Regions from separate parts of the Homo sapiens genome. Here all the other regions are linked to region 2. Evidence: fine-mapped expression QTL. A gene starts in region 2. Each other region holds a variant in brackets. All regions are shown on one strand. Distances are between the middles of the regions.

What was found. PIP is the estimated chance that this variant, and not a neighbour inherited with it, causes the effect.
Region 1: its variant is fine-mapped to the expression of PARP12 in subcutaneous fat (FUSION, PIP 0.95).
Region 3: its variant is fine-mapped to the expression of PARP12 in whole blood (TOPMed, PIP 0.90).

Annotation. Positions count from the first base shown.
Region 1 is chr7:139,889,983-139,898,160 of GRCh38, forward strand. The region is part of intron 3 of TBXAS1 (thromboxane A synthase 1); the gene reads left to right. Among named protein-coding and RNA genes, the nearest start is that of TBXAS1, 65 kb to the left of the region's middle. The variant G/GACACACAC (reference allele first, on the strand shown) is at 3,343.
Region 2 is chr7:140,059,758-140,067,935 of GRCh38, forward strand. It overlaps PARP12 (poly(ADP-ribose) polymerase family member 12), which reads right to left and starts at 3,194. Exons shown (of 12, transcript NM_022750.4): 1 at 2,765-3,194. The coding sequence starts at 3,090. RefSeq lists a silencer at 2,802-3,121 and an enhancer at 3,132-3,341.
Region 3 is chr7:140,033,994-140,042,171 of GRCh38, forward strand. PARP12 (poly(ADP-ribose) polymerase family member 12) reads right to left here. Exons shown (of 12, transcript NM_022750.4): 6 at 7,651-7,846; 7 at 3,722-3,863; 8 at 242-338. Among named protein-coding and RNA genes, the nearest start is that of PARP12, 25 kb to the right of the region's middle. RefSeq lists a silencer at 2,519-2,568. The variant C/T (reference allele first, on the strand shown) is at 3,628.

The DNA of each region.
Region 1 (8,178 bases), 170 kb before region 2:
TCCAGGGTAGGCCTGGAATCCGGAATCTCCACCTCCCACCCTCCAACAATCGAATGGGGTGTTTCCCGCAGTGTGTCCTTGAGACCATCGTTTCCACTGACAGTAATAATTGTTACATGGGGAATAGCAAAAGGAACACAGGTCTCTTCAGTGTAGAAAGACTCCGAACCTTTCATGCAGCAATGTCCTTCGACAATCTCCAAGTGAGAAATTTAGGATGCAGTCTTTTTTTTTTTTTTTTTTTTTTTTTTGAGACAGAGTCTCGTTTTGTCGCCCAGGCTGGAGTGCTGTGGCGCGATCTCCGCTCACTGCAAGCTCCGCCTTCCGGGTTCACACCATTCTCCTGCCTCAGCCTCCCGAGTAGCTGGGACTACAGGCGCCCGCCACTGCGCCCGGCTAATTTTTTGTATTTTTAGGAGAGACGGGGTTTCACCTTGTTAGCCAGGATGGTCTCGATCTCCTGACCTCGTGATCCACCCGCCTCGGCCTCCCAAAGTGCTGGGATTACAGGCGTGAGCCACCGCGCCCGGCCAGGATGCAGTCTTTATTTGACCACAGAACATTTTTCCCCCCAGAGTATTTCTTGGGACTAGGATATGGAGAACAGGCTTTGAGAGAAAACACTGATCTAATAAATACCAGCATTTTACTCCTAAAGAATTCCCCATAAAAGACAACCATTAATAGAAATAGTTTACTTCACCATTGTGAATTATCAACATTACAACCAGTAATTACTAATTACCTCCATTTTGAGTTGATGTTTTGGGGGATGTTTTTATCCTGCAGTGCTATGGAGAGGCTGGGAACGCACTGCTGCCTGTGTTGCTTGTTTATTTATTTCCTTTTATTCCCAGTGTTCTCTCATTCCCCTTCCCATCCCCAATAGTCAACCATTCCAATTGTGTTTAATGTGTTTTTTTTTCACATGTTCTTGCAAATTGTGCATTATCATTTCGTGGATATTATCCTTAGTTTATGCCAATAGTACTGCCGTAGATCTCATTCTATTCCTTAGTTTTTTCATTTAGCACTGTGCTTTCAAGGTCCAGCACAGAGTTCCCATTGAGTCTGCTGCTTCCCATGGCTGCCTGACATGCCACGGATGCCTGTACCTACTTCACCTGTCCACTGTCCCAGGAGGAGATACCCAGTGGCCCTCAGCAAGCAACCCTGCAGTGGGCATCCTTTTATGGGACCTCTACGGACCTGTGGGAGAACTCTATGGGCTATCCATCTTGCCCTATGATTATAATATATATATATTTATTTATTTATATATATATATTTGTTCCCTAAGGCCACTTACATATTAATTGCTAATAATCTGAAAGTGTTTTCCAGCACTCAGTGTGGATCATGTCCCTCCAATATAGTATCTCCCATGGCCATCCCAATAACATCCCTGAGAGTTTGGCCGGGCTAGTTGCATTATCCTCAATCATACAGAAACATGAGTGACTAGAATGAAAAGGGCGTGTGGCTAGTAAGAGGTGTGAGCAGAGTTGCACAGGTTCTTTTTATTAATCCAAAGCTCTTTCCATTCCACTGCCTCTTCTTGCTGTTTCTTCAACATTCCAAACAGTCCTGCCTTAGGACGTTTGCCATAACAATACGTAACATAATTATTTGTTGGTTGACCTGCTTTCCTGGTAGAATGCAAACTTCACGAGGGTAGGGACTTGCTCTCTTGTTTGTGCTGCTATTTCCAGTGCCTAGAATGGTGACTGACACATAATAGATGCTCAGTAAATATCTGTTGCGTGAACAGAAGAATCATCTCTAAGTACATGTCTTTCATGTCAGATTTGTCTCCAAGGAAACTTCAAACAGGAAGGTCTTGCTATTTGGCTAATTTGGGTAATGGTACTATTTTACTGGAGACAAATAAAAGGAATTAGGGGGAGAGTCTCATATTAAAATAGAGGGTTGGATAAGGGGAGTTTATACTCTTTCCCCATCAGTGGCTTTTATGCTCTATCAATTCAGTAGTTAGCCCATCAAAGTAAAAAATTGAATTACACTGTGTAAGGCCACCTTGGGATCCAAAAGATAAAAGAGAAGATAAGGGACATGTTCTCCTGATACACTAGCTGGGCTCCACTCACCCAAGTCATTAATTGGAGTCTTATTGGGCTACTGCCTCATATCCTACTCCCGAAGAGCTGATACCTCCCATAACCTCATTCTTAGGGTCAGCTGGCCGTACCAGAAAGAGCACTGGATTAGGAGCCAGATCTGGGTTCTGGTCTTAGCTCAGCTATCCCTACTGATGGGACTAGAATGAATGAGTCATTTATCATTTTCTTCCCTTTAAAAAATACTTGAGGCCAGGCTCAGTGGCTCACCGCTGTAATCCCAGCACTTTGGGAGGCCGAGGCGGGTGGATCATGAGGTCAGGAGTTCGAGACCAGCCTGACCAACATGGCGAAACCCCGTCTGTACTAAAAAAATACAAAAATTAGCCTAGTATGGTGCCGCGCACCTGTAATCCCAGCTACTCAGGAGGCTGAGGCAGGAGAATAGCTTGAACCTGGGAGGCGGAGGTTGCAGTGAGCTGAGATCATGCCACTGCACTCCAGCCTGGGCGACAGAGTGAGACTCTGTCTCAGAAACAAAACAAACAACAACAACAACAACAAAACAAAACAAACAAAAAAACTTGAGCACCTACCTATCTCACAGGTCTGACATGAGACTCAAAGGAGCTCTCAGAGCCCTCCCAGGGCAGACTGTCCAAGTATCAGGGATTCCAACTGGGATTCCACTGCTCCTTGGTGTTCTTGTAGCCAGCCTGCATCTTGGGGAGTCTGCCGAATTCAGAAGCCCCATACCTCACCAGCTCGGGGTGAGCTTCTTGAGTCCTGCACATGGGTCCTCTCACCCTCATGTCTCCAGGGACTCCTCCGCCTGGGTAAGGGGAGACAGCACACATCATCCAGTCCTCTCCCCTCTTTGGGCCTCATTTTCCTAGCTATGAAATGAGGGGGTTGGGCTAGAATGATCATCTTGAAGCTTCCCTCCATCTCTAAAGTATTATGATCAGTGCTTTATTATTTTTTCCCTGCCTCTGATTTCTCTCCCACTGTGTCTGAAATTCTTTTGCCATTAAATTTTCTCTTCTTTCAGAGTTGCATATCTGGGCTTTTTATACCTAGTCCTGGACAGCACATTCTTCCCATGGCACTGGGCTTCCTCCCCTGGCCTCACTGTCTTTTCAGGAGTGACATTAGCTTTTTCCCAGACCGTGTATTCCTGTTCTAAGCCCACACATCATTTGGGGAGAGATGATTTTGCCATGTACTCTCACAAATATATGTCCTGCACATATTCTATGGAATA[G/GACACACAC]ACACACACACACACACACACACACACACACACACACACACACAGCTCCCTTCAATACCCCCGAATATACATGCCTGGGCATAACGTGTGGGCAAAAATATTCAGGGACAGCCAAATGACTATTTTAATGTTCCTTTGTCCCTGCAGGGCCATCGAACTATTTATTTAGTAGCTTGATGCTGTTTGCATCAACAACTTTGCCTTATAGGCTGTTCTTCATGTTTATGATTCTTACTGTGAAAAAAATTGCTTGCCTAACATCTGTTCTGAATTTGTTTTTTCTTTATTTTTATTTATCTGTTCCCCATTGAATTACATTTGCACCAAGAACAGTAACTTGAATTGTAATCTTCAGTGTCCTTCAGGATTTCTGCACACTTCAATACATCTCTTAATTACTCTTTTTTTATTGTTATGAGATATACATATATACCCATGCTCACACTGGCAGATTGGTTTGTAGCTTACCTCTGCCTGTCCCCCTCTGGGGACTAAGTTTTATTAACTGAATAAATTAGATGGGTGGGTATATTCAATAGAGTAGGGAGGTTTATCATTACAGGTTTCTTTCAGATATTTTTCCCCCTTGCTGCCCAGTTCTCTCCTTTAGCCATAGCTCTGTTTTGGAGAAAGCTTTATTGTAGCTTGACAGAGTCATAACTCACCAGGATGAGAAGGACCACTTCATCTTATAGATGAAGAAGCTGAGGGCCAGGGGGGAGGCTATCTTCCTGCCTGCTTCCAGAAAGCGTGGAGAATAGCTGCCCCAGCGCCATTCTTGAGAGGTAGAGCACAGCTTGACCCTGCCTCTCCAGGCTGCCAAGCCTGGGGGCTTTCCTTAGCAGCAGGAGGCCTCCTGGGACTACCGTGCCACCACCCACGCACCACACCATTGCTGCAGACCCAGTCCTTTGCAGAGCAAGCATTTTGCATGTTTTCCATGGGTGTGGCTGGGTTGGGGTGGTTAGGAAAGTGTGCAGAAGATGGTGTGGGAGAAGGGCAGGGCATGGAGAATCACAGTGGGGTCTCTTCATGCTTGTGGACTCTCCTGGTGGAGCTGGTTCTCTGGCCTCCCTCAGGCTGGCTCGTGTGACTGGAGCCCTCATTAACCCCCTGCTCTCACCACTTAGAAACCAACCCAGGGACCAACCAAGCATATTCCCAGCAGTAGGCAAGAAGATCCCTAAAGAAGGGAAGTGAGACCTGCGTTTATTCCCCTGATACTTGGGAAATCTAGCAGATATAGAGACAGTGACCCAGGTATCCAAGGGATTGGTCCAAATTCACCATCCTGTAACTCGAAATGCAATGCTCTTTCTACCATCGGTTCTCCATTCTTTCTGGAAGGTGTGTCCCCCTTCTTCCTTTTGCCCTTTCCCACACTCTTTGGGGGTCTATGTCCATGTCTTCCAATGGCACAAAGTCAGAGGGGATGGTTTCCCCATGTCTTGAAGTGCTCACTGCTGGCCCTGCTCCAGATGTTGTCCACTCAACAGACATTTCAGTCTTTGCTACGTGTACAGCATGGAGCTCATGGCAGTGGGAGAGACTACCCATCCCCTCCAGAAAATGTATCATTCATGTCTCTTTTCCCAAAGAAAGCTGACATCTAATTTAGGAGAAAAACCCAGACATGGGCCAAGTTGCTCAAGAATGCCAGGTAGTATAGTGGCTGACTTCTACAAGAGAAGGACAGGACACCCAGAAAGAAACCCAGAAGAACAGGAAACCCAGAAAGAACAGGAAACAGGATTCTGGGTAGAATCATGGACCAGTGAAGGCAGAGAAGGCTTCTAGGAGGAAGTAGGTCTTGAAGAATGAATAAGGGGGAGGTGAGGGCAAAGAATGTTCCACTCAGTAAAAACAGCCAGAGAAAAGCCCTTGAGGTGGGAATGGTTGGGGGAATGGAAGTTGTGGCTGGAGAGAGGGACACAGATGGATTGGCCAGTCATCATCACACACTGGAAAGCCTTCGTTGCCAGGCGAAGACATGTTTGTTATCCTTTTGTTACCCTTGCTAATGGCCTGTAAGCTGCTTAAAGCCATGTCTTGCAGGTCAGTTTCTAGAGATGGGGTTTGAGGGGCAAGATGTTTACTAGGGATCAGTGAAGGGAAGGAGGAGAAAGCTGTCAGTCATCCCCCAGTAGGACAAAATGCCACCTCTCTGTGTTCCTACTCAGCCCGGCCACTGGATGTGGGCTTTACCAGGAAGGGGGTGACCCCAGTGACATGGATCTCAGCAGCTGAGGCTGGCCCTGAAGGAGCTAACAGCTGGAGGCTCCCTGCTGACCACAGTCTCGGCTGCTGGACAGCAAGTCCTTCCCAGAAGGGGGATCTGGACGACATGTCTTGATGTCATCACATCATGGGAACTCTAGTTCAAATGAAGTTTTTGGCAGAATCACCAGGTTGAAGTGGGAGGTGATCTGAGGGTTCTGTATGCTGAGCTTCCCCACAGAGGACTCTTTGCCCCGCTAGACCTGAGACTGGCTGGGGCCAGCCACAAAGGCAGGCCCATGGCTGATGGAGCCAACAGGGCACCTCTGCAGGGGGCACCTCTCCAGGGTGGTAGGAGTGAAATAGAGCAGGCCCCAAGTTTTAGAAAATGACCAGGGGCTGGGTGAATTTTGGAAGCAAGATAAATGTGGATAAAGAGAAAAAAGGATTCTGAGGTTTCAAGTCTGGCTTCAGAGTTGAAAGCTCCTTCTGCCAGGAGGAGTAATAGGGAAGCCAAGAGGATAAAATGATTTCCCAGTCCTGGAAAGGCAGCTTAAAACCATCCTTCCACTTGCTCTTAAGGGTGAGGCGCTCTGCTAGCTTCTCAGGGATGCACGGACAGATAAGATGGGCTTTGTCTTGAGAGAACTTGCAGAGCGATCAGGAGCTTATCAATAAACAGAGGGTGATGCAGGTCAGTAGAGGAAAGGACCAGGTGCCACAGAAACTACAAGGAGCGAAGGGTCCATGAAGCCTTCACAAAGAGGGGCAGGTGACCCGACTGTCTGAAGTTTTCCAAACTAACAAGAGGGCAGCCGGCACTTTAGAGGGTAAATACTTGCAAAGAGGCAGAGCAGGGGGAATACTGCACATCTGGGGAACCATAAATAACTTTTTCACAGCAAGAATGAAAGGCTGTGGTTCCCAAACTGTGTGCTGAGACACCCCAGGGTGCCACAGTGAACTCACAGGGGCTTCCTGGGCTATGGTATTTTACACATTCGTGACAAATACAGCAACATCTGTCAGGCACTGTAGGAACTGCTTTCAGTTTATGTGTATTATTTCTTCAAATGTCCACTAACTTGCTAGAACATGTATACTTATAAAGTTGTTTGAACTTATCTACTTAGAAATGAGACTGTGGGGTTCTTCTTTTGGCCTGGGGAGCGCTACGAAGACATTACTGAGTCACTAAGGGCACCGTGAACTGAGAACGTTTGGAAACACAGGTATAAGAGGAATGGGGTGAGGAGAGAAGTCAGGAGCTCCTGAAGGGCCCCTGCTTGGTTACAAGTGAAGAAGCTTAAACTTGCTTCAAATGATGGAGAACCACTAGAGATTTATAGGGAATAGAACGACACAGTCAGCTTCTGTTTTACAAAGGTGATTGGCCTTGGCGGGAGGGTTGGTTTGGAGACAGAGAGCTTCACTGGGAGCTCCTCAGTGGTCCAGGCGAGAGAGACAGGGCCTGAAGCCAGTTGGCATTAGACGTTGGAGCTGGAATACAGCACACTGCGTTGACATCATGGAATTCCCACTGCATGCTTAACACCATAATGAACACTAGACATCAAAGATAAGAAGACAAGATGTGTTTCCACCACTCACAAACGAGCAGAAAGACAGTCAGGAAAAAAATTACAATTACTAGAGAACCACTAGGAGTCAACCAGGCAAGAAAAGAGGAGCCGTTCCAGGCAAGGCAGGGGGAACAGCATGTGCAAAGGCATGGGAGTGAGAGATCATGGAGGGTTTCAGTCGGTATGATCAGGATTGGCTCTTGGCGGTGGGGTGGGGAGGGGGACCGGGGGCAGGCAGGCGGGGGGAATAAGGAGGCACAAGGCCAAAGAACAAGGCAGGGAGCAGGGTGTGAAGGACATCATGTGCCACATGCTAAAGACTTGGCAAACCATTGAAGGGTGTTCAGTAAAGAAGCAGCATACTCAGATTTGCACTTTACCAAGTCCTAGGTGGATAAGTGGAGTTGGGGCCCACATGTGGACAAGCAGCAGGTCAGAATGATGGAGACAGAAACCTCTGAGTGGGAGGTCCAAAGTCTGGCCAGGAAGAGGACCAGGGATTGTACCAGCCTGAAAAGGGCAAAAGAAAGTTGCTGAACAGGCTCTACAAACTCCTGAAAGGGGAGGGGCTGAGAAAGCGCTGGTTCGGTCCATTGATCTCTGCAGGGCTCTGTGAATTCAGGGTGGACCCCAGGCATGAGTACTCTGAGGGTAACATGGGCAGATGTTGCCTGACCCTGCTCAGAGTGACAGACAGGAGCCCTGGGAAAGCAACTCCAGACTCCATGGCCTATGACTGTGTCACTGGCTCCTCAAGAAAACTCTCCCTGGTAGCTGAGTCTGCTCTGTCATTCAGCTGACTCAAGCCTCTTGCTCTAATGACAGACGGGAGAGCTGACCCAAAAGGGAAAGACACTCCATGAGCCAAGCAGGGACAGAGCCCCAGGACTCTGGGGACCCTGCTTTCTCCATGGCACCCTGTGGACCATCCAGCCCCGGAGGAGCGCCTGTGAGTCAAATGCCCAGGTACTCCCAGCACTGGACTTCTCCTTAACTTTCTCTGAACTTTCTGGAAGTTGAGCATCTCAGACACTCA
Region 2 (8,178 bases):
CATAGAGGAGACTCTGATACGGAGTGGAAAGTGCAACGTCAGCTGTTGTCAGAATCTGTCAGCGCAGAGCGGAAGGGCACCTGAGCCAGTCAGGGCTGGGAGAGAACTGGGGAAGAAATCAGGGGAGCATGCTGGATGGCATAAAGCCTGAGTGGAATACTTAAAGGGTGAGGAGGAGACAGCAAGAGAAAGGAAGAACATTCCAGAAGAGGGGCAAATAATTTGGTGCTGCCAGAGCCAAATATATCTAATAAGTGTAACGATGACTGATGGTAACAATGATAATGACTACTAAAATTTATTGAGCAACTGCCAAATATCGGGGATTGCCAAAATGTTTTATGAGTTAATCATTCAGTCCTCAACCAGCCTGTGAGGGTAGTAATATCATTAACTCCACTTTGCAGATGAGGGAACTGAGACCTGGAGGTAAAGTCACTTGCCCGAAGCCATCAGCTAGCAAGGAGCAGAGCCCAGGTTGAAACAAGGTGGGCTGGATCTTGGGACTGTGCCCTAGACCACCAGGCTCAATGCCTCCTGAGTAGAGGACTAAGAGTCAGGCACCCAGGACTCCGTACCAGCTCTGCAGCAGGACTGATGAGCTATTTCTAAAAGAACTGACCCTGCGGTTCAGGAAGACAAGCAGAGTCACAGGGGAAGCAGAAAAGTGCAGCCAACCACACCCACTCTCCCTAAAGTGAGTCAGAAATGGAAGGTTCAAGAAACTCACCTGTGTAAACCACAAGGAAAAGAGAAAACTGAAGAAAGAAGAAAACTCAAGGTCATCTGAGCCAGTAAATATCACACTACAGATTTCCGAGACAAGTCAGACCTGACCCCACATTTTGGGAACTAGCTTAAGAACAGGGCTGCCATCTTTATTTTACCAAATATGAACATGAAACAGATCTACCAGTTACCCCCATGAGTGGCTCTATCCAGCCACCATTTGCTGTGTGCCTTCCTCCTCGTGGGCTGTTGTTCCCTGCTCTCCCCTGGACTGCCTCATCCCTGAAGGCTGATTTCCCCAGAGTTCCACCCTCAGCCTCTTTTCAGGCCTCAGACGCTACCTCAGATCTGATCCACTCCTGGGGCTGCAACTACAACATACACCGCCCAATATCTCCCAAACCAGCCCAGCGCATTGGGGCCCTGGCCTTCCTCCCAAGCTTCTGACCTGAACAGCTGCCTCCTGGGCATGCTTCCAAACTAAAACCCTCTCTTGCTCTCTCAGTGAACAACACCCAGGCCACCGCAGGAACAGAGACTGAAGAGTCGTCACCTCTCACATATCCTCTCATCACACCGTCACCAGCTATCCCAAATTTCTCACACACATAGCCCTTGGAAAGCTCTAATCTAGATACTTCCAGACAGCTGCTTCCTAGAGGCATTTCCCAGTCACCCTGCATCTAGACAGGGTCACGAGACAGCTTCTGGTCAATGGGATGTGGGTGAAAGGAAATCCACCACTTCTAGACCTGGCCCACAAAAACCTCCCATGCATCCCTCTTTTCGATCAGCCCCCTCGAACTTGATAACCTAGGCTGGCCTCAAGAGCCATGTGCTGAGGGGCACAGAGCGGAGGTCAGTCAGCCTGCATCCCTGAATGACTGTATGGATCAAGGCCCCCACCCCATGCTCACTACTGGGCCTGACATGAGCAAGAAATATCTACTCTATTAAGACAAACATACACACACACACACAAAACAGGGAGCAAGCAAGAAAGGAGGGAGCAGGGGAGGAAGGAATTCTCCTTGATGACTAGCTTCCCAGTGGTTCCCCCACAACATCCTCCCTTAAATTGGCACCCACACCACTACCTTAGACTTCCTAAAACGCAAACCTGATGGTTGCTCTCTCCTGCCATTTTACCCGCCCCATCACCTCCAGGGTGAGGCCCAAATTCTTTAGCATAAACCTCAGCAATCCCTTCCACACATCCCACTGGCCACATGCTATGCACAGAACATGGACGCTAAGTGCTGGGGAGACAGCTGGAGCCTCTGCCCTCAGGGAGTTTCTATTCTACTGGCAGCTGGGTGCCATGAGGAAAATAAACAGTTCCCTGTGACCAAGAGTAAGGGGAGGAAAAATCCTCAAATGGGATGTGATCTTTAGGTTGAGGCCTGAAGGATTAACAAATAGGGCCAACCAAGAGCAAGAAGGGCATTCCAGGCAGAGCAAAGACTCCCAGAAATGCCCAGGCTCCCAGAAATGCCCGGGGGGGGGGGGGTGTTCCAGTCACAGAAGGGTCCTGGGTGGGCAGGGACCAGTGCCCCAGGACCTTGTGGGCGATGGCAGGGAGTCTGCATTTTCCAGTTTGTAAGCAGATTAATAGGGTTGAACTGGGTTTAAAGATCTCTACCAGCTGCTGGGCAGAGAAAACCTTCATTGTCTGGCCTCAAAGCTGGCAAGGGGCGACCCGCGGCGTCGTGGAGTTCCCCTAAGCCGCCGCCTCCCTCCCTCCCCACCCCACACGGCCACACCCGGGTGTTCCACCCGGCACTACCATGCTCTATGTAAATCACTCTCTCCCCCCAGGCGTCTAGAGGACCCCACTCGACCCTGAGTCCCTCGCACTGTGCCAGGTACTCCGCAGGTGCTCATTAAACGCTCGCTTTAGTGAATGACGGTGCGAGGTCAGGGCAGAGCCACCGAATTGTCTGCTCAAACTTCAAGTAGGACCCCCAAGCGGGCTGGAAGTGCGTGAGGGCGCGCAGGACCTCCGCCCGCCGTCGCTCCCGGCGCGGCGCCTTACCCGGCTCTCAGGAACTTGCAGGCGCCGTAGACCATGAACCTGCAGAGGTGGAGCTGCGCGCAGAGCCCCACGCAGCCCGGCTTGGAGCCCTGGTGCGCGCGACACAGGCGCAGCGGCGAGGCGGCCAGCACCACGCGCTCCGGGGCCGCGGCTGCGCCGCCCGCCCGCACCGCCACCACGAAGCGCCCACGCTGCCGCAGCAGCCGCTCCAGCGCGTCGGCGCTCAAGCCCATCCGCAAGCGGCGCCGCAGCTCGGGCAACTCCAGGGCGCCCCCGGCCGCGCACAGCACCTGGGTGACCTCACCGACGACGCCGGCCTGGGCCATGGCCGCTGGGCCTGCTCCCGTCGGACCGCGGGTGGCGCGACGCGGACGGCGGCGGACGCTGGCTGGCGGGCGGCTCTCGCAGGGTGGAGACGCCGGCGGGAAACGAAACCGAAAGCGGCCCCGGGCCGGCGAAAAACAGAACCTGTGCGCCCTCGCCACGCCCCCGGTCCGCAGCTGAGCGGCTGCGCCTTCCGCCTCAGGGCCCCCAGCTGTGAGGCCGCCGCCCGACGGAAGCTCGGGAGCTCTTGAGCTCGGGCGTTCGGCCCGGAGCGCGGGCTGTGGCTGTGGCGGCTCGCGGGGGTCAGTACCTAGTCCCTGAAAATGGCTTCCCTGGATGTTTGAGGGACCAGGAGCCCCTAATGCCGCGATGCTCAGCGCGCCTTCAGTCAGAGGGAGCCTCGAGGGCGGCGGCAGCGCTGGCGGAGCCGGCTGGACGCCGCCGGTTAAAGCCGCTCAGCGTCGCCCAGGCCAAGCCCGGGCTTCGTAGACGGCTCACAGAAACAGGGACAACTGACGGGAGCTCTCACCCCTCGAACAAGTGACAAAAGCGATCACTCCGCATAGAAGACGCACTTAATTAAAGGTTCCTTTCGCCTCGGTGCATCAATGAGTTCCTTCATTTAAACATAAAAGGGTATGTCCTTTAAAAGAGCAAATCCGTGAGCCGAGATTGCGCGACTGCACTCCAGCCTGGGCGACAGAGCGAGACTCCGTCTCAAAAAATAAAATAAAATAAAATAAAATCCGTTACTCCCAGCCCCTGCTAAGTAACGATTGAACAAATATTTTAGAAGACCCTTCAGAGCAAAGGACCCTCTCACACGCTGAGAGCAATGCGAGTTGTTAGAGCCCTTTGAGGAGGTAATCCAGGAATAGCTATTAAAATTGAAAACGCGTGTGACCTTTGACCCAGCAATCTTTCCTCTCGGAATCTTCCAGAAGTAAAAGGAACAGTAAATAAGTTATGTGTGAAAGTGTTACTGGGGGAACCCTACCTGGGAGGTAGGGTTACGTGGGAACAGTGTGGTTGATCTTTAAAGACTATTACGAAGGCTGTTTAACAAGCATGCGTTAGAGCTCCGTGTGCGGATGTAGAGGGGCAGACAGCCATGATGTGGTGGTAAACGAGAAAAGATGGCTGTACAGAAATGTCTAAATAATCAAGTTGAATGATCAAGAATTAATTTTTTTAAATGTCTGAATAACAAAAAGAGAAGCCTGTGTGTGTGTGTGTGGCAGGATATTTTTGAATAAGCACGGAGAAAGATGAAGAAACACACAAGGGTAGTTGAGAGGAGGCAGTAGGAGGTATTAGGAAAATGGAAAAGGGAAGATGAGAGGCAGAAGGATTGTGGGGGGAGAGTACTTACGGTATACGGTATAACATTCACTAAAAATGAATATAAAAATCTTAACTATAGGCCAGGCACAGTGGCTCACGCCTGTAATCCCAGCACTTTGGGAGGTCAAGGCGGGCGGATCACTTGAGGTCAGTAGTTTGAGACCAGCCTGGCCAACGTGGTGAAACCCCGTCTCTGCTAAAAACGTAAAAATTAGCCGGGCGTGGTAACGGGCGCCAGTAATCCCAGCTACTCGGGAGACAGGCAGGAGAATCGCTTGAATCCGGGAGGCAGAGATTGCAGTGAGCGGAGATCATGACACTGCACTCCAGCCTGGGCGACAGAGTGAGACTCCATCTTTAAAAAAAAAAAAAAAATTACCTGTACTATTACTACAAAAATGTAAATAATAAGTGTATGGATAAAGACTAGATAGTAACATGGACAAATGAAAATGAATTTATTTAATTAGGAAATTGAATGAAGGGTTTTCTCTTGGATTTTAATTGTGATTTTAATGTTTTCATTGTATAAAATGTTAATTTTGTTTTTGTTATTGTTTTAGAGACAAGGTCTTGGTCTGTCACCCAGGCTGTAGTATAATGGTACAGTCATAGCTCACTACAACCTGGAACTTCTGGGCTCAAGCGAACCTTCCACCTTAGCCTCCCAAGTAGCTGGGCCTAGAGGCACGTGCCACCATGCCCAGATAATTTTTATATTTTTTTGTAGAGACACTGTCTCATTTGTTGCCCAGGCTGATCTTGAACTCCTGGCCTCAAGCAGTCCTCCCACCTCAGATTCCTAAAGTGCTGGGATTACAGTGAGCCACCACGCCTAGCCTAAAATGTTAATTTTTAATTTAAAATGTTAGGCAGAGTGCAGTGGCTCACGCATGTAATCCCAGCATTTTGGGAGGCCGAGGTGGGTGGATCACTTGAGGTCAGGAGTTCAAGACCAGCCTGGCCAACTTGGTGAAACCCCATCTCTCCTAAAAATACAAAAATTAGCCAGGTGTGATGGTGTGTGCCTGTAATCCCAGCTACCTGGGAGGCTGAGGCAGGAAAATCGTTTGAACCAGGGAGGCGGAGGTTGCAGTGAGTCAAGATCGCACCGTTGCACTCCAGCCTGGGCAACAGAGCAAGACTCCGTCTCAAAAAAAAAGTTAATTTTAGTTGTGGTTTCCATATTTTTTTGCAATAAAATAACATTTTTTAAAAAAGAAAGGAAGAGTGATGTCAGTGAAAATGGTGGATTAAGTATCCCAGCAAGTTTGCCCTTCCATAAAGGAAGCAAGGAAAGAACTGACAAAAATTGTCAGAATCAACTTTCTTAGAGCCCTAGAAATTAGTCACAGGTTTGCAGCAACCCATCTGGCATTTAGTCAGGAAAAACAGCAAACTCTCAGTAAGAACAGCAATATTTATAGTATTTTAATTTACCCTAGTCCTATCGCACCCCCATCTCTAGTTCCATGGCAGCCTTGAAAACTTACAGCCCACGTTCCTAGTACCTGTACCAGAGGGAGGAGACAGGGCTGGAGCTACTTCAAAGTCTCATTCCCAAAGAAGAGTCATTATTTAACCTATCTAGTGGGTCCCTGGAAAAAAATCCTGAAAAGGGTTGTCTTTATTCAACCTCTTTGGAACTAGCTCAGTCCTAAAGGTTTTTCCACCTGAAGAGGGAGTGATTTGTCAAATATTTTAACATTGTAACTGGCTGAGGCAATAGGTAACGGTAGGGGCAAACAATAGACTAACAAAGAAATGTAAAAGGAAACGTTGAAGGAAGAGATGTCCATAGGGGCTTTGAAAAGCTCCAGTATATTTTCAGGAATTTAGAAGGCCATGTGCATGTGTAGGGCTGTGCACATGCTCTGTTAACACCTGAGAAGATCCTAACCTCTCACTACTAGCTGACACTGAGGCTCTGTGCTAGCAGGAAATAAAAGCTATGCAGAGTTGCAAACTGCCTAATGAAAATTGAAGACATACCCCAAAGTGCATACAGAGCCCCTTGGCAAAGACTAGGAGACATATTGGTTCCAGGTGTTTAAGGAAATCTCCATCTAATCATTAGTTGACCAAGTAGAGACTTCAATAGTCACACACAATGAAGATACACACTTTAAAAAATTAGTTCAAAAAAGTTACTAAACAGCAACTATTAGGTTGGTGCAAACCGCAATTATTTTTGCACCAACCTAATACTAAAATAAGCACAATCAAACCCTGAGGAGAGAGGAGTATCTGACTTTGAGAGTTGGCACATTGTTTGAAATGTCCAATTTTCAACTAAAAATTATGTGACTTGCAAAGAAACAAGAAAGTAAGACCCATACAAAGGAAATAAGAGCAATCAATAAAAACTGTTCCTAAGAAAACCCAGATGCTGAACTTTGTAGACAAAGAGTGTAAATCAGCTATTTTTGATATGTTCACAGAGCTAAAGGAAACCATCTCTAAAAATGTAAAAGAAAGGATGAGAATGATGCCTTGCCAAACAGAATATTAATAAAGACACAGAAATTATAATAAGGAACCAATAAAGGTTCTGGAGCCAAAAAGTACAATAACTGAAATGTTAAATTCACTAGAAGGGTTCAGCAGCAGATTTGAGCATGCGAAAGAAAAAAAAAATCAGCAAACTTGAAGATAGATCAATTGATGATTATCTGGTCTGTGGAACAGAAACGAAAAAGAAAAATGAAAAGAGCCTCAGAGACCTGTGGGACACCATCAGATATACCAATAACACAAAATGGAAGTCTTAGAAGGAGAAGAGAGAGAGAGAAAGGAAAGCGAGAATATATGAAGAAATTTTGGCTAAAATTTCTCAGATTTGATGAAAAACATTAATCTACACATCCAAGAAGCTTAATGAATTCCAAGTAGGAAAAACTCAAATAGATCTACACCTAGACACATCATAATCAAACTTTTGAAAACAAAGAGAATCTTGAAAGCAGCAAGAAAGTAGCAACTCATCATGCACAAGGAATCAACAATAAAATAAAAACAGTTAACTTCTCATCAAAAACCATGCATGCAGAGGGTAGTGTGATGATGTATTCAAAATGTGAAAAGAATCAACCAAGAATTTTATATCCAGCAAAACTATCTTTCAGAAATGAAGGAGAAATTAAGATATTCCCAGATAAACTAAAGCTGAGCCCGTTAGTTGCTAGCACTGGGAGAAACACTAAAGAGAGTCGTTTGGGCTGAAAGTGAAAGACACTAAACAGCAACTGGAATTCTCATGAAGAAAGAAAAGCACCAGTAAAGGTAACTACACAGGTAAATGAAAAAGACAGTATAAACGTATTTTTTGTTTGTAACCCCCATCATCTGATTTAAGACAACTACATAATGCAGTAATTACAAATATAAGTTGATGGACAATGTTTTGAAGATGTAATTTGTGACAATAACAGCAGAAGGAAATGGGGAAGGAAAGTGAAGCCATAGAGAAGCAGTTTTTATATTCTGTGGAAATTAAATTGGTATTAATCCAAACTGGATTTTTATAAATTAAGATGTTGCTGGTAATTCCTAGTGCAACCAATAACCAATAAAATACATGAGGCCGGACACAGTGGCTCACGCCTGTAATCCCTGCATTTTGGGAGGCCGAGGCGGGTGGATCACCTGAGGTCAGGAGTTCGAGACCAGCCTGGCCAACATGGTGAAACCCCATCTCTACTAAAAATACAAAAAATTAGCCAGGTGTGGTGGCAGGCACCTGTAAT
Region 3 (8,178 bases), 26 kb before region 2:
CAGAGAATCATCGCAGATCACAACAGGCAGCCTTCTAATTATGCATCACGAAGCTTCTACCCACAGGGTAATTCCCACTCTGGTCCAACTAGTAGAAGACAAACGATAACAGAGTGTGGGAGCACTTCGTTGTACAAGCCAACGGTGCCCGGGTGCTGTCTGAGGCAGGTTTTCTGTCACCACTGCAGAGCACACCCCAGCTGATTACATCCTAAGTACCAAGCCCCCCACTGCAACCTACCAGGTTTGCATGGTCGTCACATCCTGGGGAGACACGTATTTGGGTCTGCGGCAAACCTTTTTAGTTGTGCCATAGACCAGGTTTTTCTGAACGAAGGCTGAAAAAAAACATAACCAGTGAAAAAATATACATATACATATACATACACACAGGATGGCAATGTTTTATAAACACAAATTAGATAGATTTGAAAGCTTATCCAAATGTGTAAAACCCAGAATCAGTCTGTTAAAAATAGGGCCATTTTACACATTTCAAATATTCATAAAGAAAATAGGTATCCTTAGGAGACTGGGTTTAATGAATAGAGGAATGATTAGTAATTGACATATCAATTACACATGAGTGCTTTTAAATTGTTCCTTCCAATCTTGTTTAAACCATTATTTTGCTTGGCAATTTTTCCCAGCTTGGATATAAAAAAGCCTCAGCCCAGCCTGAGATCAAACTACCATGTCTTGAGTTAGTGGGATTCAGAGTTAATGTAAGTTTTATGACTTTGTTTTAGTTAAACTATGGCAGTATTCATCAACCTTTCTAAACCAATAATATCTTTAATAAACAAATTTCTTGCTTCCCCACCCTCAAGAATCCCATACTCATCCTGAGGATTTGGGGTTGGGGGAACTGGCCCCTCAAGTTGAAAAATGACAAATACCTAGCAGTGTTTGTTCTGTCCTTGCCTGCCAGGAAAACCCTCTCAAGTCTTACATTTTTTTTAAGAGATGGGGTCTTTTGCTTTGTTGCTCAAGTGGACCTTGAACTCACCAGCTCAAGTAATCCTCCCACCTCAGCCTCCCAAGTAGCTGGGACTACAGGTTTGTGACACCATGCCCAACTAATTTTGTTTTCATTTACAAAACATTTTAATATTAAAAATTATAGGTGTCCAGAATTAGCCTTATTGCAGTTGAGCATAAACTGGATGGTTATCCAAGTGTGTGTCTCTTAGGTTGCAGCTGAGATGGTCACTATTCCTGGAGGTCCATCCACATTCTCATTCAGAGCCCATGATCCAGATGCAGCAACCATGACCCCTTCTGTTACCCACTACTCAGCCGCCCATCAAGACCATTCTCACTGGCATATTTAAATGGGTGTTACTGGCCTACTGGCCATCTGTGATGAATCTTAAATGGCTTTCACTGGTGAAATTAAAAGTGAGCTAAGATACGTGGACTGGCTAAATGTGTGTCAGACACATTCCCTACCCTTCTATGGACACAGTAAAGTGAGGTCTTTTCCCTAATTTACCCTTCCAGAGGATACCCTAGGCTACAGCCTGTCTTTGGGGAATTCTGCCCCGTCAGACACCACCTAACAGGATGCTAGAATTCTGCCTCTGGAATCCTGGCATTTGCCTTGAGTGAATCATTTATGACAAGAGTCCCTAAAAGGGCAGAACTGAATCATCCCTAAACCTTCAGAACAACTCATTTGGGCTCTTTTGTGTGTTTTAAATGTACTTGCTTCCTAATAAACAGCTAATAAATATGTGTGGCAGTTTGCTTTGAGACTTGCTTTATACTTAGAAGTGAAGTTGTGGGGGAAGAAGCCAATTCATCTCAAGCTTCTTTTATGGATACTGGTATCTACCAAAAGAAGGAGGAGGAAGAGGAGGAGGAGGGGGAAGAGGAAGAGGAGGAGGAAGAGGAAGAGGAGGAGGACGAGGAGGAGGACAAGGAGGAGGACAAGGAGGAGGAGGAGGAGGAGGAGGACGAGGAGGAGGAGGAGGACGAGGAGGAGGAGGAGGAGGAGGAGGAGGAGAAGGAGGAGAAGGAGGAGAAGGAGGAGAAGGAGGAGAAGGAGGAGAAGGAGGAGAAGGAGGAGAAGGAGGAGAAGGAGGAGAAGGAGAAGAATTGTGCCCACTCAAATGGGCTTCGGTCAGTCTGCAGGAATCATAAACTGCACGTGTGTGCTCTTCCCCATCCCTATTATGAGGTTCTGTTATGTCCCCAGGGTGTGGCCTAGGTTGGGAATGATCAAGGTAGTATCTGACATTTCTATCTGTTTTGATATTTTCCAGATATTTAAAAGAAATATTCCAGATTGCTGTCAGCAGCAGTCAGATGTATGCTTGCCACACAGTCCTGACCTTCAGGGCAGTCCTGATTTGATTAACGTCTATGCTCTCACTGGTCCCCTCTCATGCACTGGTGTGTGTCAGGCCGTGGAAAGCAAACCAGACCACACGTGGCTGGCGCTCTCCAGCAGAGGCAGTTCGCACTCTAGAGGAGAAAAACTTCACCGTAAAGGGCATGTCAAGGGGGTAGTGATCTACCCTAAGCAAAACCACAAGTGCCACGAAACCACAAGCAAAACCAAGGCCAGAAACAGACAGCCAAAGTGGTTTTAGGATAATTCACCAGACACTTCACTATACTCCACATAGAATAAACGTCTGCAAAAATAAAGAAAACCATAAACTGTGTTTAAAGGAAGGCCCACTTACTCCCTTATAAAATGCTGAACATTCAGAAGGACTCAGAGTTTAAAATGTGAAATACAGGCAAAACGGAACTGAATAAAGCTGGACCGATACACTCATGAGGAAATGGCTTAAGAGAAACTACACAAAATTAAAACTTAAAAAAAAAAAAATTCTCACACATCAGCCACTTGGAGGAACTGGCCAAAGGGTGGCCTATTTCTCTCTGTAAGGCAACCAGGATGAAACATTTCAGCCCCAGCCTCAGGACACCATGAGTGCACGAAAATCTGCTTCTCAGGGACTTTCAATTACTCTGTGTCCTACCATCCGTTAAACCCATCAACTCCAAAGTCGCCTACAGAAAAGATGGCAGCAGGCCAGGCGCGGTGGCTCATGCCTGAAATCCCAGCAAACTGGGAGGCCAAGGTGGGTAGAACGCTTGAGGACAGGAATTCAAGACCAGTCTGGCCAACATGATGAAACCCCGTCTCTATGAAAAATACAAAAAATTAGCCAGGTGTGACGGCTCATGACTGTAATTCCAGCTACTTGGGAGGCTGAAGCACGAGAATCACTTGAACCCGGGAGGCGGAGGTTGCAGTGAGCCAAGATCACGCCATTGCACTCCAGCCTGGGTGACAGAGCGAGACTCCGTCTCAAAAAAAAGATGACAGCAGCACTGCTGCAGCAGGGAGTGAAAGGCAGACACTGCACGACGGAGCTGCTCGGACACCTGTCAGGGACTCAGGTTAGTCCTCGGATACAGCAGGACAACCATGCTACATGCATGCTGACCCTGCTTGTCCTCCACACTTGGGGCTCCTGCCCCTCCTGGGGTCCATTCTCCTCACATCCTTGATGCAGTTCTTCCTCCACTGCACAGGGCCAGTGTCATCTGTCTCCAGGTCTACCTTGGACCTGGTACCTTGCTTTTCTTTCCTGTACCCACCCAGGC[C/T]CTCAGTATGTGCACACGGCTCCTCCAGGGTTAAGGTGTAGGGACAGAGCCAACACAGGCAGGCTCTGCTGGGCGAGGGCAGGGCACAGGATACCTTTGAAATCTAACTCGTAGTTGTGCTTTCCGGCCTGGAACTTCAAGGTGGCTGCCTGGCCGTCAGACCCCGGTGTACAGTAGGCCAGGTAGGCCTTCTCCACGTCGCTACTGCTGACAGTGGTCACAGGGTGCACCGTGCCCTGCGATGGAAAGCCAGACACTTTATGAAGGCAAGAAACTGCGTGATGAGGAAAAACGCTGGTGGCACCCACGCCACATTTCAGAGGTGCTCCTGGTGGACAGTCCTGTGGTGGGGAAGATGGAGGCCAGGGAGCATGGTATGGCAGGAGAGAGAGGCACAGAATGGAGGCAACATGACTGTCTCCTGAAGCTGCCCTAGCAAACACAATGCAGTAAATATGGGTCCTGCTGAGCAGGAAGACAGGGATGGGAGCAACGGAGAGGAGGGCACTCAAGTCACCTAGGACAGAGGACACGGCAGCCATTCAAATGCCGGCAGAACAGCAACAGCGACTTCTGGAGTGCTGCTTGACTGGGCAGCCCAAGCCAGGCTGGTCTTACCCGTCTATTCACGTTGCAACCATCCTTTAATCAGAGCTCGGTCCTCTTCCTTGCGGTTTTCTTTTTCTGGTCCCTAGGAGCATTCATCTATTTTTTAAATTATCCATTTCAATCCCTATCCTTCCACAATTACCTACAGGAAATCTCGTAGCTTCAGCTGGAGTGAGTTTGAATTCTGGCTCCCAAACCTGCTGGCTCTATAACTTTGGCAAGTTATCTTAACCTCCCTGAGCCTCCGTTATCTCAAGCTTATAATATGAATAATAGTACTTAGGCCATATTCATCCCTTTATACAACAGGACTATATTGTCCTCACAGGGCTGGAGAAATCATTTAAATAAGGCATGTGGAGCACTTAGTACAGTGCCCAGAACAAAACATACTCAATAAATGTTACTATTATCATCACCGTTCTTATTAAATTTGAGATTACACTGACAACTAAAATTAAAGTTATTCAACCTATAACCAACTAACTCCCTCTGTCCCTGTCAATTTTCCTGCTCCCCCTACTGCTACCATCCTAGTTCTCCTGGGTCACAAGCTTTAGGTGTTACTAACAGAACAAAAGTGAGACAAGACAAGAGTCACCCATGCCTCTGCGCAACTGAGTCCAGCAATGGAGAAGGGGAAAAAAAAGTACCCAGATATTTCAAAGCCTCAAGCACAAGGTCCCACACAGGTCTCACGGGTGCTCTAGACGCTGAGATGGGTAACTAAGAATGACCAAGGAAGGGTGAGACCCAGCAAAGGTTTCTTGGAAGAAAAAGATGCCTGAGCCAAGGCCCAAGCCCGAGGGATGACATGAGTTGGCCCCATGAGGACCATAAGGGGCGGGTGTAAGAGGTATAATGGTTTGTAAAGCAGCCTCCTAGTTTACGGTCTCATAGCGGCGCCTAAGTTTCTCTCTCTGAAGTCTGTCTTCCTTCAAAACCAAGCCATTAGACTAGAGTCCGGGAGGAAGAGGATGTGGCATAAAAATCCCTTTCTGACAACAAGAGGAAAGGAAAAGAAAACAATCCCTCCCCTTTGGGCCTGAGGAAATGAAGCTCTGAGTCAGGGAAACAGAGAGGAGAAGCAGCAGTCAGATGCAGGCGTCCTGCCCCGACCCAGGCCTCCAGTCAAAATCCCTGCAGATGGATGGTCACAGAGGGAGGGAAGATGCAGGTGGATGAGCAGAAAGCAAAAAGCAAAGAGTTTTTTTGCCCTCAGTGGGAGGTTTGGAAGGAGAAACCAACAATGGCAGCCATATTATGTGTTAAGCTGAGAAAGGTCTCGGTTTAGCACCTGGAGGCACCAAGTGAGATGTGGAAGGAATGACAGATTCCCACATGTCCTGTGGCAGGACCAGCAGGTGTCTGATTTTGACATGAAATGTTGGAGTACTTCTTGAGCTCAGACAGAAAAAACTTAGCTTTTCTGGGAATCAAGAGAAAACTGTTTTGAAGTGGCAATTAACAGAAAACTAAAAAAGAAACCTAAATGTGGGGTTATACCAGAAACGTGTAGGAAAGGGAGGACAAGACAAACCAGATCATCCTAGGCTGTCCAGCCTGAAGCCACCAAGCCTACATGTGTTTCTACGCCCCCACTAGCACGTGGCATATCAATAACATCCACACGCGGTTCATCCCCAGACATTCTCAAACTGCTCGCCATGAGTTTCTGCACTGCCACAGAGGAAGAGGAGCACAGGAAAGAAAGGGGCACGCTCCAGGTGTTGGCTGACTGGAGGAGACCGGCCCCAACAACCAGAGCTGTGATGAGACACCACCGGGGAACCCTACTTTTGCATGGGTTGCCCAGAGCCCTGTGTCATCTCATTCAGCAACCAGCGGTCTCCTCCGAGAAGCCGGACAGATCCCCAAACAGAATGAACGTGATGGTCACATCTGCTAAGTGTGTTGCGCCTGCCATCTGTCCCTCCATCTCCAGGAGAGCCGGGATTCCCGGAGCATGATTGGGCAGTCATCCTCTCCCCCTCCTCCATGTCACGCCAGCCTCTTCCCCTCACGCTCCTGACCAAACCCAGAGAGCTTATCTGGATGAGTCCCACAGGGCAGGTCAGAGAGAGTCCCAGGTCGCCCACGACGGGAGGGAGACAGGTGGGAAAGGCAGGCAGGGCAGAGCAGCAAGCAAGGAGAGGCTGGTGCTGGCAAGAGGGGAGCAGGGGAGGAGAGGGGAAAGGAAGTAGTGCAAGGCAGCAAGGCCATCGCTGAGAGTGACCATCTCCAGCTGACCAACAGACACTGTCAGTAACACCCTCCTCCTTCCATCAGCCAATGTCTATTTCCTGAGGACTGGCTATGCATCATTCCACACACGGGATACGATGGGGCAAAAGAAAAGACAAAAGTCCCTGCCCTCATGGAGCTTACATTAGAGCATCACCAGAGTTAAAGGGCATTCTGAGTGCAGTTAAGAATAAGAAACTAAAGCTTCAATATAGCCTCTTGAAACCCAGAAGAGTACAAAATACCTATCGATTTTCATTTTGGAGGGTGAGTTCTTTATCAATGGTGCCTTCCCTAAACTTGTACTTGAGATGGAATCTCGCTCTTTCGCCCAGGCTGGAGTACAGTGGTGTGATCTCTGCTCACTGCAACCTCTGCCTCCCGGGTTCAAGTGATTCTCATTCATACCTCAGTCTCCCGAGTAGCTGGGACCACAGGCATACGCCACCACACCTGGCCAATTTTTGTATTTTTAGTAGAGATGGGGTTTCACCATGTTGGCCAGGCTGGTCTTGAACTCCTGACCTCAACTGATCTGCCCACCTCGGCCTCCCAAAGTGCTGGGATTGTAGGCATGAGCCACCACGCCCGGCCTAAACTTGTATTTCTATAAGTGACCAGGGGACTCCCTTTAATCTGACCCATCCACAAACACCTGCGAAGAATTGACAGCAACTATTTTTTGTTATTTGGCTTGGATTCCAAACCTATACATGATATAAATCAATTTTCTTATATTTGCCTACCTTCTGTAAAGTTGCAGAAATGGCAGACAACCAGTTTGAAAAGCCTTTACCTCTATATCACAGCTACACAAACACACTTGCACACATAGGCACCAGCTGTGGGGTTAAGTTACCTGTTCAACAAGAGAAACATCTTTCTATCCCATTTAATAAAACCAATGAAGAAACTTGATCTCACTACAAATTTGTCATTCAGTTCTCATGAGCCAACAGATGGAAGCTCTTCAAAGATGAAAGCTCATACAAATAAATTCCAACTTATCTAGTTTTGCCATAATTCTCCCAAAGCAAGTGAGCCACACTGGCACCTGGGGATCCTCAGCTCTCTCAAGGATGCCCCTGGCAACAATATGGGGGCTCTTATTTGGCTCCTCTCTTACAGATCCTCAGGACAAAACATTCACCCTCTTTCCATCACACTTACCTGTCTTCCATATTCCTGCCAAGAACCAAACTCATCACTCCAGTACCAAATCCAGTCAGTGGTGAGGATGAAGTGTGGAGGTTTGGTGACAGAGGAGGCCGTGGAGAGGCGGCGAGCCTGGGTAGCACCGTAAGTCATGGCGTTAAAGTTCAGACAATGAGAGTGAAAGGTACTGGCTGACTCAGAGCACAGGATCCTACAGAAGAAAAACAGCAGCAGACTGAAAATCCCACCAGCCAAGCAGACACAGGTCCCTCAGCTTGAGAACATATAGCTGGGAGATGCGAATAGTAAATGTGGCATGCACATTTTAGAAAAAGTTCCCAGAGGTAGAGGAAACTGCTTTTTCAGATCAGTTTTGAGGTATAAAAATATCAAAATCAAGATAATGTGGGAGACTAGTTATGACGAAAATTCCTCTCAGTACAAAATGCCGAAGATGCTGGTGAAATCATTCTTTTTTAAAATTCACTGCTGAGCTGGCAAGAAAGGGAAGTCCTCAGAAGCCAAAAATAACAATAGTTAACA